Linked DNA regions of Homo sapiens. The protein of the gene in region 2 purifies or fractionates together with the protein of the main gene of each other region. This does not show direct contact. Each region holds a gene or a part of one and is shown on either strand. Other genes may lie near its edges.

Region 1 (3,500 bases), on a different chromosome or scaffold from region 2:
GTCTGGCTGAACTTGCAATAGAAGAGAACATTGGCAAACTGTCCACATCAGCACTTCGAAGTTGGAAACACAAGACCCCATGGTCTTCAAAGCAGCTCAGGCTAAGACAGGCTGATGTACTTCATGCCGGTCAACCAGATGCTCGGGCACATGGTCTCTCAGCACAGGCACAGCAAAGTAACACGAGACCAAGGCACCCCCCTCCTCCTCCAGAGGTTCTAAGTCAGAACAGGCACCTCTGTCACAGCTCCAAAGGACACACCATGTTTGAAGTGGGCAACGCACTGAAACTGGGGAATAAAACAATTGCTCCACCCCCAAATAAGCCAAGGAGGTTGTCAGTACAAACCTGTTTAAACTTATAGGTTTGTACATTTTAAAAACAAAAGATTCCATTACTGACAAAAGCAAAAGAAATCAGACTGCACTGGCTTTTCTCGGTTTTGGAAGAATTCAGCCCACAGAGTAGCTCCCAGAAGTTGTAAACCTAGTCAGTCTCTATTAAAAAGTAGCTACTGGGTAATCCATGCTCATGGAAGCAACTTACTTTCAAGCTTTAGGACTATTTTAGAAATGCTGATGTTTTGGGGAAGAAAACCCATTCTTCCCTTAGATGCCACCTCACACAAATAGTAAATCCCTAAGAAACTGACCATGCATGGTAAAGGGCTACTTCCAAAGATGGGGTCAACGGCCTGTTTCTTCAAAATACTCGCAAGAAACACAAATGCCAGTTAGATAGTTCCTACACTGTGGTTATTTACCAGACTAGAATCCTCTCTGGGAAGTGTTTAATCCTGCATCAAATACAGACAGGAAAGCATTGGCTTCGAGAGAATCACAGTTCACTGTAAAGGCAAGCCGGTGTTCGAAAAGGACCATTAATTCAGAAGGACCCAAAACTCTGGAAAGGAGAAGTCATGATCACTGCTGTTTCAGGAACAACCTTGGTAACTTGCCAGTTACGCTGGTGGTGGAGAGAATGGAACAGCTGGAAGGGAGACTTCTTAGCGCGCTCGGCATAGGCACAGACTTCACTGCTTCAGAGGACACGCAGTGCAGACGAGAGTCCCAAGCTTCCCAGCTGCACCAGGTCCACATGGCACTTGAAACAGGCTGCCTAAGAGGCCACAACGCCCAAGCATGCTCCTTTGCTCAGAGACCCAGGACCTCAGCTGGGTGGCTGTGGACTCAGGGCCACCCTTCCCCATCTTCCAGTGAGATGCCCAGCACAGACTTGTGGGGGATTCTGCACTCTTGCAGAGATTTGGTGAGGTCAGAAAATCGCCTCCTGGGCACCTCCATTGTTTCAATGCTGCAGTGTCGGTAGGAGGTTTTGTTTTTCTGTTCGGCCACAGCAACAATGGTTTGCAAATCATCTGTTGGCCGGAAATGGCGTACAAACCTTTGGCCTGTTGGTGATCTAACAGCAAGCAGCAACCTTGGTTCTTGGTCCGATGGTTCCTCCAGATTTCCAGCCCTGGAAGAGCCCTGTTTCTTGGTTCGGACGATGAATTTCCTCTCCACGGCACAAGCTCGAGCTCTGGAATCTTCTTCACTTGTCTTCATGGTGCCCGTCTCGTCTTGGTAAAGAGCCCGGATACTGCTCAGTTGCAGTGAGCTGGCCTTTTTGGCAACGGTTTCCACAGCCTCCTCCTCCAGGTTCTTTCTGTTGATGGAAGGAAGGACTGGATACTTATTGAGAGAAGAGGAAGCCCCAGTGGGTACTTGCTGCTGCAGCTCAGGGATCTCATCAGAAGCTCCCTGGTTTGGAGATTTGGGTGCACAGGCTCCTGGTTTTTGGCTGCTTGGCAACTCATAGGGAATGGCTGGAGGCGGAGATGGTATATGATGAGCGCACACCTCCACGCCCTGGGATTTCTGCAGACTCGGTCTTGTCCGTCCCTTGGCGGACTTGGGCCTTATCATGTGCATATTTAGTGAGTTTGGCTGCCAAATGAGGCTGTCAACTGCTGTGCTGACAACAGTGCTACACTCAGGTGGTGCTATATTCACAGGGGCTTCTGTGGCCATTGCTTCTCAAGACCCCTAAGGAAGCAGGAAAAAAACAGGAGTCCGTGGGTTAAACTTCCTGGGACTCCTAGATCCAAGCCATTCCCTCCCTGAGTGCCCAGAATAAGCACAAATTTCTGGCATCTAGTAAGGGGCACCAGCTGCAATTTATTCATTCAGGCATGCATTCATTTATTTTAGGCACTTGCGAGAGATCAGCAAACCGAAGTCCTTGCAATGTAAATTATTATAGTGAGGAAAGACAGGGGTTAAAACCCACAAGTAAATAGATATTTTCAAAGAGTAACAACCGCTATGAAGAAAATAAAAATTATTGCACCAGAGCGTGATTAAGGTGGGGGACTAATTCTTATTCTTTTAGGAGGGGGGAAGTTTCTGGTAAAAACCAGAAAACCTGCTGTGTTTCAGTAAAACTTCATTTTTGGACTCTGAAATTTGAATTTCAGATAATTTTCATGTGTCACAAAATACTCTCTTTTGATTCTTTTTCAATGATTTAAAAATGTGAAAGCTATTCTTAGTTCATGAGCCACACAAAATAGGTGACGGGCCGGATTTGGGCTGTGGGCCATCATTTGTTGGTCCCTGTCCTACAGCAACTCTGGGCGCATGCTAATTCTACAGATGTATGAGCCAGAAAGGTAGAGTGATTTCCCAATGGTCACACAGCCAGCTGGTGGCAGAGCTGGAGATAGGACCCAGGTCTTGTGACACCCGATCCTGTGTCCTCTGTACCCATACAAGCTGCTTCCTGAGCCCAGCACATCACATTCTGTATGTCTGCTAGCTGCTCACATTTCTTTTTTTCTTTTTCTTTTTTTCTTTTTCTTTTTTGAGACAGAGTCTCACTCCATCACTCAGGCTGCAATGCAGTGGCACCATCTCAGCTCATTGCAATCTCCGCCTCCCAGGTTCAAGCAATTCTTGTGCCTCAGCCTCCCGAGCTGTTCAGACTTCTGTCTTCCCAGCTACCCGATAGGCACCCTGGGGCCTCTGTATTTGGATCTCCCACCAAAAGTCTGTGTGAGTGCTGGTTAAATCCACCAGGAGCAATGAACTGAAGCATGGTGGGAGGCGTGAACATTTCTCTGTGCAGACCCGGAATTGCTAAACCATGACACCTCCTCTTTCATTGCCATCTTGGTGGCCACTTCACTAACACTACTACCAGCACCTCCTCCTCCCAATCTCCAGTTCCATCTTTCCCTAAACATTGCAGACATCTTATTGGGCTCCCTGCCTCCCTCTGAATCCTGACCACCACTGTGACTCCTGCCTTCTCTGCTTGAAAGCTGACCTGGCCTCTCCTAGCCTTCTAAAGACCTTCTGGTGACTTTCCAGTGATTCATGGTCCCCAAGAAACAGCATATTTGGGAGCAAAGGACAGAGGACCAGGTGTCACAAAGTGTGGGTTCAATTTCAGCTTCTCTGCCACTGGCTAGCTACCTGATCAAGGGGCAATCACT
Region 2 (4,027 bases):
TCAGGACCAGCCTGGGCAACATGGTGAAACCCCATCTTTACAAAAAATACAAAAATTAGCCGGGCATGGTGGCCTATAGTCCCCGCTACTCAGGAGTCTGAGGCAGGAGGATCGCTTCAGCCCAGGAGGTCAAGGCTGCAGGGAGCCATGATTGCACCACTGCACTCCAGCCTGGGAAACAGAATGAGACCCTGTCCCAAAAACAAGAAACTCAAATTATTTATTTAACAGAGATATCCAGTCTTTTGGCTTCCCTGGGCCACATTGGAAGAAGAATGGTCTTGGGGCACACATAAAATACTAAAATACACTAATACTGACGATAGCTGATAAGCTTTAAAAAAATTGCAAAAAAGTCTCATAAATCTCATAATGTTTTAAGAAAGTTTTCCAGGCACGGTGGCTCACACCTGTAATCCCAGCACTTTGGGAGGCTGAGGCGGGCAGAACACAAGGTCAGGAGATCGAGACCATCCTGGCTAACACGATGAAACTCCATCTCTACTAAAAATACCAAAAAAAAAAAAATTAACTGGGCGTGGTGGCAGGCGCCTGTAGTCCCAGCTACTTAGGAGGCTGAGGCAGGAGAATGGCGTGAACCCGGGAGGCGGAGCTTGCAGTGGGCCGAGATCGTGCCACTGCAGTCCAGCCTGGGCGACAGAGCAAGACTCCGTCTCAAAAAAAAAAAAAAGTTTACAAATTTTTGTTGGGCCACATTTAAAGCCGTCCTAGGCCACAGATTGGACAAGCCTGGTGTAGTATATAGTCATCAAGTATTTCATGACTTTAGTACTATTTTAGGTACTGCTATAAAACTCATGCTGGTTGGGGGGCAGTGGTTCACGCCTATAATCCCAGCACTTTGGGAGTCTGAGGGAGGAAGATTGCTTGAGCCCAGGAGTTCAAGACCAGCCTGGACAAGACCCTGTCTCTACAGAAAATTTAAAAAATATATGCTTTCACAATAAAAAATAATAAAAACTGATGCTGTTCATGAGCTTATGGTCTTAAAAATTATATTCCTGTGGGTTTTTGGTATTCATATTATTTAACTACATTGTTTTGAATACATTTAGTTATTTCATTGTATAGAATATTATATATTTCTGTATATTTCTACATATTCATTTTTTGTATGTACAGAATGTTTTTCAGAGAAATAAAATACATTGGGAGCTTTATCATTTTCTTTCTTTGTTTTCCAAGGGAATTACCTTCAGAATTACAGGGAATTTTTGATAAAGAAGAGGTGGACGTTAAAGTTGAAGACAAGAAAAATGAAATATGTTTGTCTACGAAGCCTGTGTTCCAGCCCTTTTCAGGACAGGGTCACAGACTAGGAAGGTAAATATGCCTATTGTCTTGTTTTGCATAGATCAAGGCTTAACTAATATTCTGTCTATCAGTATTTTACCCATGTAGACCACATGAATGGAGCTTATCATTTCTCCCATTGGAAATCAGATTTTTTTTAATGTTAATTTTTATGAGGACACATAAGTCATAGTTACCTAAGTATATATTAACAATGCCTGGCCAGGCATAGTGGCTCATGCCTGTAATCCCAGCACTTTGGGAGGCCAAGGTGGGCGGATCACCTGAGATCGGGAGTTCGAGACCAGCCTGACCAACATGGAGAAACCCCGTCTCTACTAAAAATACAAAAAATTAGCCAGGCGTGGTGGCATGTGTCTGTAATCCCAGCTCCTCGGGAGGCTGAGGCAGGAGAATCGCTTGAACCTGGGAGGCAGAGATTGCGGTGAGCCGAGATCGCGCCATTGCTCTCCAGTCTGGGCAACAAGAGTGAAACTCTGTCTCAAAAAAAAAGAAATGCCAGCAATACAGTAAAAAATCATGCAGGCTTTTTTGTTTTTCTTTTTTTCAAATCAAAAGGGCTTGGCTTATTAAGGACAGAATTCAATAGTTAAGTTCTTTTGTGTCCCTTGCACTCACCACTGTAGAGTACATGTACTAGCTTTTGAATATTATTGTTCTCTTTTTTTTGAGACAGAGCCTCACTTTGTTGCCCAGGCTGGAGTGCAGTGGCATGATCTTGGCTCACTGCAACTTCTGCCTCCCTGGTTCAAGCAATCCTCCTGCCTCAGCCCCTCTAGTAGCTGGGATTACAGGCATACACCACCACGCCCAGCCAATTTTTGTATTTTTAGTAGAGACAGGGTTTCGCCATGTTGGCCAGGCTGGTCTTGAACTCCTGACCGCAGGTGATCCACCCACCTCGGCCTCCCAAAGTGCTGGGATTACAGGTGTGAGCCACCGCACCCAGCCTATTGTTCTCTTTTATGGTTACCACTGTCTGCAACATTTTGTTCTGTGATCTATGTATGAATTTTGAGGTAATAAAAATGAAAATCAGTGTCAGTATCAAAGCCTTAAATTATTTTCAAGTTTTACAGTTTCCATCCTATCTAACAGAATATGCAGAGAGATTATATAGATATGAGAGCTCTTTGATTTTTATAAATTCTCATATTTTAAATTATCAAGATTGGTAAGGTGCATACATATTCATCCACACATACAAATATATCTGGATGCATCCTTCAGAATGATCAGGAAGTACTTTATTTAGTTTCTTTTTCATTATAACCTAAGGACTAAGCTCAATAAAGAACTTATAATTTCTTCTAGAAATTTAACCTGGGCAGTAGGTAAAGGTAAAGTCCATAGATCTATGAACCTTCTTTAAAATTATCCATTCTGTAAAGCACTACTCAAATAATACCAGTAATAATATATGTAGCTTACAAATTACTCAGATATGTATAACTTCATCAGATTCTTAGAACCATCATATATTGTGGACATAAATAATATATCTTTCTGTTATTACTGAAGAAACACATATAACTTAAAAAATCTTCCTTAAAGTTATACTTGCTATAATATTTTTATAGTAATTATTTAATAATAAAGTTTTATTGAATGGAAAAAACGTCTAACTTTGTTGTCTGGATTTCCTTAGTGCCACACCAAAAATTGTTTCTAAAGCAAAGAATATTGAAGTTGAAAATAAAAATAATTTGTCTGCTGTTCCACTGAACAACTTGGAACCCATTACTAATATACAGATCTGGTTGGCCAATGGAAAAAGGATTGTCCAGAAATTTAACATTACTCATAGGTGAGTCTTCAATTTCAGTATTTGATATTTTTTCACCAAGTTAAAATTTCATTTTTTCTTTTTGGTTCAGTCAACAGTTTATTTTTTAGAGATAGAATCTTTCTTTGTTGCCCAGGCCAGAGTGCAGTGGCACAGTCATAGCTCACTGCAGTCTTGAAGTCCTGGATTCAAGCAATCCTCCCACCTCAGCCTCCTGAGTTGTAGAACTACAGCCACATGCCACCATGCCCAGCTAACTTTTTTTTTTTAATTTTTATTTATTGCCAGCTAATTTTAAAAATTGTTTTGTAGAAAGGGAGTCTCACTGTGTTGCCCACACTGGTCTCAAACTCCTGGACTGAATTCATCGTCCTGCCTTAGCCTGCCAAAGTGCTGGGATTACAGGCATGAGCCATCGCATCCTGCCAAGCATTTTATTTATTTATTTATTTTTTTGAGTCGGAGTCTCGCTCTGTTGCCCAGGCTGGAGTGTAGTGGCACGATCTCAGCTCACTGCAACCTCTGCCTCCCAGCTTCAAGTGATTGTCCTGCCTCAGCGTCCAATGTAGCTGGGATTACAGGTTTGCACCACCAAGCCCGGCTAATTTTTGTATTTTTAGTAGAGACGGGGTTTCACCAGGAGTTTGGCCAGGGTGGTCTCAAACTTCTGACCTCAAGTGATCTGCCCGCTTTGGCCTCCCAAAGTGCTAGGATTACAGGAGTGAGCCACCTCGACCAGCCTGGCCAAACATTTTAATAAATAGTTCTCTAAACATAATTATGTCTAGACAGTTTTTTTTTTTTTTTGAGGCAAGGTCTCACTCTGTCACCCAGGCTGGAGTAGAGTGGCGCGAGCCACCGTGCCCAGCTGATAATGGGTATTTTTAAACATTGAATGAGGTAGGC

Evidence for each region.
Region 1: the proteins of UBXN2A (region 2) and UBXN10 purify together in Homo sapiens (affinity purification with mass spectrometry, with the first as the bait; one large-scale study listed by BioGRID). This does not show direct contact.

Annotation. Positions count from the first base shown.
Region 1 is NC_000001.11:20,189,096-20,192,595, reverse strand, and holds part of UBXN10 (UBX domain-containing protein 10), read right to left. Parts: intron 2,050-3,500; 5' UTR 2,035-2,049; coding exon 1,192-2,034; 3' UTR 1-1,191. UniProt on the Homo sapiens protein: VCP/p97-binding protein required for ciliogenesis. Acts as a tethering factor that facilitates recruitment of VCP/p97 to the intraflagellar transport complex B (IFT-B) in cilia.
Region 2 is NC_000002.12:23,981,690-23,985,716, forward strand, and holds part of UBXN2A (UBX domain-containing protein 2A), read left to right. Parts: intron 1-1,206; coding exon 1,207-1,344; intron 1,345-2,983; coding exon 2,984-3,142; intron 3,143-4,027. UniProt on the Homo sapiens protein: Acts to repress the ubiquitination and subsequent endoplasmic reticulum-associated degradation of CHRNA3 by the STUB1-VCP-UBXN2A complex in cortical neurons.